2 linked regions of the Homo sapiens genome follow. The protein of the gene in region 2 purifies or fractionates together with the protein of the main gene of each other region. This does not show direct contact. Each region holds a gene or a part of one and is shown on either strand. Other genes may lie near its edges.

What was found.
Region 1: the proteins of SLC25A20 (region 2) and OGDH fractionate together in Homo sapiens (co-fractionation; one large-scale study listed by BioGRID). This does not show direct contact.

The regions. Positions count from the first base shown.
Region 1 is NC_000007.14:44,676,127-44,679,645, reverse strand, and holds part of OGDH (2-oxoglutarate dehydrogenase complex component E1 isoform 1 precursor), read right to left. Parts: coding exon 3,497-3,519; coding exon of another isoform or gene 3,419-3,496; exon of another isoform or gene 3,064-3,418; intron 1-3,063. UniProt on the Homo sapiens protein: 2-oxoglutarate dehydrogenase (E1o) component of the 2-oxoglutarate dehydrogenase complex (OGDHC). Participates in the first step, rate limiting for the overall conversion of 2-oxoglutarate to succinyl-CoA and CO(2) catalyzed by the whole OGDHC.
Region 2 is NC_000003.12:48,885,004-48,889,260, reverse strand, and holds part of SLC25A20 (mitochondrial carnitine/acylcarnitine carrier protein), read left to right. Parts: intron 1-4,257. UniProt on the Homo sapiens protein: Mediates the electroneutral exchange of acylcarnitines (O-acyl-(R)-carnitine or L-acylcarnitine) of different acyl chain lengths (ranging from O-acetyl-(R)-carnitine to long-chain O-acyl-(R)-carnitines) with free carnitine ((R)-carnitine or L-carnitine) across the mitochondrial inner membrane, via a ping-pong mechanism.

The DNA of each region.
Region 1 (3,519 bases), on a different chromosome or scaffold from region 2:
AAAAAAACCTGGACGCTGTGGCTAGCCAAGGTGATATACAACACACCCTCTCCTGCTGTGTCCTCAGCCTACGGGCCTACTGACCTGCACCTCCCTGAGTTCTTGTGATTACCCTGGTCCTCAGCGCTGTGCTGAGTCATCCTTGGTTAAGACCCATGATTTGTGTGTCAGGGACAAAACCTAGAATTTTTAAAAACAGAACTGCAGGTGTCCTGCCTTTTGGTGGATGTGGCAGGTGCTCACTAGGATAGCAGCATGTGGACGTAAGGATCTGGTTTGCTTACGGGGCCCCCTTGGAGGTGTGCAGCTTTGCTACGATGCCCAGGCTGCCTGAGTGTAAAAGCCATTGGTTTTGAGTCACTGACATTTCATGCTTTCCTGATCCCGATAGTGTGTTGTTTCTTCCCGCAGATACTTTTCTGTCCAGTCTGTCTTCTGCTGACAGGGCACCTGTAGTCAGTCTTCCTCTTGTCATGGTATTTGCTCTTGATCATCCTGGTGATGTTGTACTGCGACTACCATGCCATACTGCACTGTGGTAACTGTCTGCTGAAATCACAGCCAGGACACATGGGGAATCTCCTTGTGTCTGGCAGCCTGAGCCATACCTCTGGCAGGAGCGGGTTCTCCCTTTGCAGCAGGTTGCATTGCTGCACTGAGGAAATGCTTTCATGAACAAAGATCCCAAAGGCCATATTAGCACTGAGCCAAATCAGGTCTGTTTCACAATCATGCATGAGGTTATGGGATGACCTCAGCTGCACTTACAGAAAGTATGTAATTCTTCACGAAAAATGCTGAGAGTTACATAACACACACTCCAGCTCCCTGAGTTTCTGGATTTAATAGAAATCAAATCATGTCCTATGGGTGTCAAGAGGAGTAAGAAGAACAGGCAGATGGCTGAGCCTGCAATGACCCCACACTGACCCTGCTGGGGACATGTGAGGGCTTGAGGCAAGGTGACGAGGAGGCTCAGAAAGAGGGCCTGGCAGCTATCCACATTGGGGCAAGGGCAAACTTGTGACAACAAGGTTTGTGTAGACTGGAAAACAAAGGGACTGACAGTTCGGACTCAGCTGCATGCAGACTTATGAGCAAATCAGGGACTAACCAGCCTCTCCTGTCCTGGCATCTCATGAAGGGACCAATCAGTGTGACCATCTGTAGCAGTTTAAAATATACTCTATTGCTTTTACTCTAATGATTTCATTCCTTTTTGGGAAATTTCCAGCATTATGAGGTGAGTACTGCTAGAGTGGATTTCTGTCCACAATCTATGAATGTGGGAATCACCCAAAGTTTTCGGTAATCTCATTCCACTACTCAGCCCAAATGCCTGGGCGAGTGTCCTAGCCAAGGAGGGTGCAAATACCAGAGGCACTGGTCATCACAATGCTGATCTCCCCATGCCGATCTCACCTTAGCCCAGGCCATCCCAGACACCCAGTGTTGTTACTGCCTGCGGGGGCTGCAGGTTCCCCAGAGCTAAGGCCTCTTTGCATCTAGTTGAAGTTTCTGTGGCACTGTCCTGGCCCATGAGCTTGAAGCCATGGAATGACCTCTGCGTCCCTGTGGGTCATACTCGTTCTTTACAGTGAGCATTGATCGATGCGGGAATCACTTCCCCAGCCCAGGCTCCATTACCTATGATGACAGTTTCCCTTCCTCTAACACTGTAAGCATGACAGTAGTAGATTTACAGTATTTAAAATTATAGAGCCTGGTAAAGTAATAATTGGTTCCACTTCTTTTTTTTTTTTTTTTCCTTTGAGAAGGAGTCTCCCTCTGTCACCCAGGCTGGAGTGCAGTGGCGTGATCTCAGCTCACTGCAACCTCCGCCTCCCAGGTTCAAGCAATTCTCCTGCCTCAGCCTCCTGAGTAGCTGAGACTACAGGCGTGTGCCACCATGCCCGGCTAATTTTTTTTTTGTATTTTTAGTAGAGATGGGGTTTCACTGTGTTAGCCAGGATGGTCTCGAACTCCTGACCTCAGGTGATCCACCCGCCTCAGCCTCCCAAAGTGCTGGGATTACAGGCGTGAGCCACCGCACCTGGCCAATTGGTTCCACTTCTAACATAGACCTGACTTCTTTCCAGGGCACAACTAGGAGGCCGGCCCCTCCCTGCTCTGTGTCCCCAATTCCCCCTACATCTTTGCTCTTACCTTTCATCTCCAGAAAACATTCTTCCCTTCCCACCTCCCTAAATCCTGCCACTTCTCAAATAAAATGACAACTACCTGCTCTGCTACTAAGGGGTGTGCCTTCTATCCTTGGTCCAACTCTAGCCCACACCCCTGCACACCTCTTCCAAAGCTCTTCACGGCTAACTCCAGTTTCCTATCATGCCGTGTATGTGCTATTTGCTTCTTTACACACGACCTTTTTTCTAAAAAGAACAGGAGGCTCTGGAGAGAAAAGTGGTGATGCCTTCTTTATATGTTTCCCAGAACCCATACATAAGACATTACAAATATTTGATTTTTTTTCTGATTATTTGGTTTTTAGGTCATCATTAATAGGAAATATAAAATTTGTCAGACAAGATTCTATCTTGAAGTTAAATAAGGGCAAATTGTTACAATCTGTTGAGACTATTTCTACACAAGCAGGCAGGCGAGTCAACCCCCAACACTCAGTCACATGACCAGAAATGGTGAAGCAGGACCCCACCTGCCTGCAGTCTGTGCCCTCCTCCGTCTCCTACCAGCCCGTGAACTCCCGCCTCTAATCACAGCAAGCATGACTCTCCTGACAAGTCTCAGTTCTACAATTTCTCCTTCAGGCTCACCTACACTTTTTCCTTACAGAGACTCTCAGACTCCCCTCCTTTTCAGTGAAAACATCTCTGTCCATTCAGAATAACTGCAACCTGGCTCCTTAACAGATTTGGTGAAGACAAAAGCAAACTTCCCACATAGTTCTGACAATTACAACTTCAGGAAAAGGAACACTGTAAGCAGGACTGTTTTACTATTGCTATTCTTTAAAAGTTGATTTTAAATATATATATATATATATATATATATACACACACACACACATACATACATATACATATATTTTTTATTTATTTATTTTTTTCTTTGAGACAGAGTTTCGCTCTTGTTGGCCCAGGCTGGAGTGCAATGGCGTAATCTCGGCTCACTGCAACCTCCACCTCCCGGGTTCAAGCGATTCTCCTGCCTCAGCCTCCTGAGTAGCTGGGATTACAGGCGCGCGCCACCACGCCCAGCTAATTTTGTATTTTTAGTAGAGATGGAGTTTCTCCATGTTGGTCAGGCTGGTCTCCAACTCCCGAACTCAGGTGATCTGCCCACCTCGGCCTCCCAAAGTGCTGGGATTACAGGCGTGAGACACTGCGCCCGGCCGACTTTAAATATTTTTTTAAAGTCTAGATGCACCCAGGGCTCTGGGTTATGTTGGTGAGCGGAACTCCATGCTGGAACATGGGGCCTTGACGATCTGCCTTGCACGCCTCTCTCTGGGCCTTACCTTTTTCCCTTCAGTGTCGCCAC
Region 2 (4,257 bases):
GTGCCATCATGCCTGGCTAATTGCACTCCAGCCTGGGCAAAAAGAATAAAACTCTGTCTCAAAATAAGAATAATATTAATAATAATAATAAATAACTTCATTAACACAGGTCTTAAAGACCTCATTGAGATCTTTTCCTTTGCTTCCTAAAATATAACTTTTTTTTTTTTGAGACGGAGTTTTGCTCTTGTTGTCCAGTCTGGAGTGCAATGGCACAATCTTGGCTCACCGCAATCTCTTGAACCATCTCCTTGGTTCAAGTGATTCTCCTGCCTCAGCTTCCTGAGTAGCTGGGATTATAGGCATGCACCACCATGCCTGGCTAATTTTGTATATTTAGTAGAGACAGGGTTTCACCATGTTAACCAGGATGGTCTCGATCTCCTGACCTCATGATCCACCCGCCTCAGCCTCCCGAAGTGCTGGGATTACAGGCATGAGCCACCACGCCTGGCCCTAAAATATAACTTTCATATAAACACTCTATTATAGTCTCTAAATTTATAGCCTTGATTAAATATACAGAAACTAAGTAGTAGTCATCCAGATAAAAAGGGAGTGATAGTAAGTGATGGACTCAGCCTTGGCGAAGTTGTTCCCAGGATTCCTGTAGGACTTGGGTGCAGAAGGAAGATCTTTTTAAACTATTTATTTATTTATTTATTTATTTATTTATTTATTTATTTATTTTGAGACAAGAGTCTTGTTCAGTTGCCCAGGCTGGAGTGCAGTGGCGCAATCTCGGTCACTGCAAACTCTGCCTCCCGGGTTCAAGTGATTCTCCTGCCTCAGCCTCCCGAGTAGCTGGGATTGCAGGCACCTGCCACCATGCCCGGCTAATTTTTGTGTTTTTAGTAGAAATGGGGTTTTACCATGTTGGCCAAGCTGGTCTCAAACTCCTGACTTTGTGATCTGCCCGCCTCAGCCTCCCAAAGTGCTGGGATTACAGGCATGAGCCACTGCATCTGGCTTAGGAAGATCTTGAGGCAGTGCCTGCCCAACCGTCCTTGAGTGAGGTGGTGCTACCCTTCTTTTTTTTTTTTTTTTTTTTTTCGAGATGGAGTCTTGTTCTGCCACTCAGACTGGAGTGCAGTGGTCCGATCTTGGCTCACTGCAACCTCCACCTCCTGGGTTCAAGTGATTCTCCTGCCTCAGCCTCCCAAGTAGCTGGGATTACAGGCACCTGCCACAATGCCCAGCTCATTTTTATAATTTTAGTACAGATGGGTTTTGCCATGTTGGCCAGCTGGTTTTAATCTCCTGAGCTCAGGTGATCTGCCTGCCTCAGCCTCCCAAAGCGCTGGAATTACAGATATGAGCCACCACGCCTGGCCTGCCCTTTCTTCTTCTTCTTTTTTTTTATGGAGTCTCATTCTGTCACCCAGGTTGGAGTGCAGTGGCACGATCTCAGCCCACTGCAACCTCCGCCTCCCGGGTTCAAGCAATTCTCCCTGCCTCAGCCTCCCGAGTAGCTGGGACTACAAGCGTCTGCCACCATGCCCGACTAATTTTTGTATTTTTAGTAGAGATGGGGTTTCACCATATTGGCCAGGCCGGTCTTGAACTCCTGACTTCGTGATCTGCCCTCCTTGGCCTCCCAAAGTGCTGGAATTACAGGCGTGAGCCATGGCACCTGGCCTTGTTCTTTCTTCTTTAAGCTCCTCCTCCTTACATCTCTAGTGCCCAGGGTAGAGTCTGAGCAGTGTCTGATGGAGGTTCTAGGCTTCAGGTCCACTTAGAGTCCTCTGCCCTTACAGAAGGAAGGTAGGCTTACCTGCCTCTTGGTCATTAGACGTTATTGAACACCTGCCTAGGGGTGGGCAATGTGCTGGGTCCTGGAGTTGTGGTGAGAATGTCTTGTATAAACCCAAGTCTTTGAAGAGTTGAATAGGCTTCCTTAGTCCATATTTGTGCATGTCCTGGTTTTTCCTGTGCCAGATTTGAGCTTTCTGCTTTCTGGAGCTGCCAGGCAGGGGTCTGTAGGTTGTGAAACATGGAACTGGGTTGGCCATTCTAGTGGAAGGAAGACTAGACAAGTTGTTCAGGAGGAATGGGCTTGACCTCTCAGGACCTGGTCATCCTTTTAGCTCATGTAGGGAGCTGTGGGAATGGCTTTGAATGGACTTTGTCATATGCTACTTTTGCAGATCCTCCTCAGATCTCTGTCCTTTTCCCATTTACTGCCTCTGTACTTTGTTCTTGGAGTCCACCTGCAGCCTGCAGCAGTTTAGGCTTTTGCAGGAATTAGGAGGAATGCTGACAGGTACAGTTGTGCCACTTTGATTCTGAAAAGAAAGTTTGGATACCCAGGGTCTGCAGTGAGGCAGGTTCTTCAGCCTGGGTCTGTGGAGCCCTGCCAGTGTGCAGCCTCACCCTGATTCTCCTGCTACTCTCTATAAGGAGAAACTTTAAAATTTTTTTGTATTTGTTTTAAAAAAATGGTTTTGAGATGGGGTCTTGCTATTTTACCCAGGCTGGTCTTGAACTCCTGGGCTCAAGTGATCCTCCCGTCTCAGCCTCCTGCGTACCTGAGATTATAGGCCCTGATACAGGCACTTCATTTGTTACTGAGAAGCTTATGACAAAGTAACAAAGTGATATTTATCTCTTTCCTTCATTCTCCAGAGGCAACTACTTTCAATTTTTTCAGTTGTTTATGCTGTTTCCACCTATCTACATAATATACATTTACTATTATATTTTATTTATTTATTTTTATTATTATTATTTTTTGTTTGAGACGGAGTTTTACTCTTGTTGCCCAGGCTGGAGTGCAATGGCGCGATCTCGGCTCACTGCAACCTCCGCCTCCCGGTTCAAGCGATCCTCCTGCCTCAGCCTCCTGAGTAGCTGGGATTACAGGCATGTGCCACCACGCCTGGCTAATTTTGTATTTTTAGTAGAAACAGGGTTTCTCCATGTTGGTCAGGCTGGTCTCGAACTCCCGACCTCAGGTGATCCGCCCGCCTTGGCCTCTGAAAGTGCTGGGATTACAGGCATGAGCCACCGCACCCGGCCATTACTATTATATTTTATACATTTTTATATTTTTTAGCTACCTATTTGTGGTACATTATTTTATATTTTAGCTCTTAGTCTCCCTATCCCCTCCTTCTGCCCTGCCCATCCATATGATTTTATCACCCTTTGTGGTTTAATCCAATTCACCATTTTCATGATTACAACTTTATATATATTTTTTCTCTTAAGTAAGTATGAAGTATGATGTGCATTCCATTCCTTGTGTAACTTCTTGTTTCCCTTGGGATTGGGTTAATAATTGTGTTAAATCTTTTGTTTTGTTTGTCTTTGAATCACTGTCTCTGTCATTCTGTACCCTAAATGCTCTGTAGTGTACCTTTCTGTTTGGTTTGCTACACACTGCCTAAGGAGTTATTTTCTGTTGTTCTAGTGTGTATTGTTTTGTTCTGTTTTTGTTTTAGTTTAGTTTTGTTTTTTTGAGATGGAATTTTGCTGTGTTGCCAGGCTGGAGTACAGTGGCACAATCTCGGCTCACTGCAACCTTTGCCTCCCAGGTTCAAGCGATTCTCATGCCTCAGCTCCTGAGTAGCTGGGATTACAGGCATGCACCACCACACCCAGCTAATTTTTGTATTTTTAGTAGAGGCGGGGTTTCACCATGTTGGCCATGATGGTCTTGATCTCCTACCTTGTGATCCGCCTGCCTTGGCCTCCCAAAGTGCTGGAATTACAGGCATGAGCTACTGCACCCAGCCTTGTTCTGTTTTTCTTGGAAACATCGCTTTTGGAGTCCTCTACTGCCCTGTGGACTGACTGCTTCCCAGGTCCACTGCACCCTGTGCCATCCTAGAAACGCATTTCATCTCTCTTGGACTGGCCCCCTGGTCTCCCAGGTCCTGAATCTTCCTCGTTTACCACCTTGTTTGGCAGGGTATTTATGTATGTATTTGTCTGTCTGTCTAATTATTTATTGGTTACCACATAATTCACTTTCTTTTTTTTTTTCTAGAGATGGGGTCTCACTCTGTCACCCAGGGTAGAGTACAGTGGCAAGGTCATAGCTCACTGCAGCCTTGAACTCCTTGGCTCAAGTTATTCTCCCAACTCAGCCTCCTGACTGCCTAGGACTACAGGCACACACCACCACGTCTGGCTAACTTTTATTTTTTATTTGTTTTTGTAGAGACAGGGTCTTGCTATGCTGCCCAGGCTCATCTTCCCTTTCATTACTAAACTGTGCTAGTGAAAATTGCTGTGCAGTTCTAACAAAAGTCC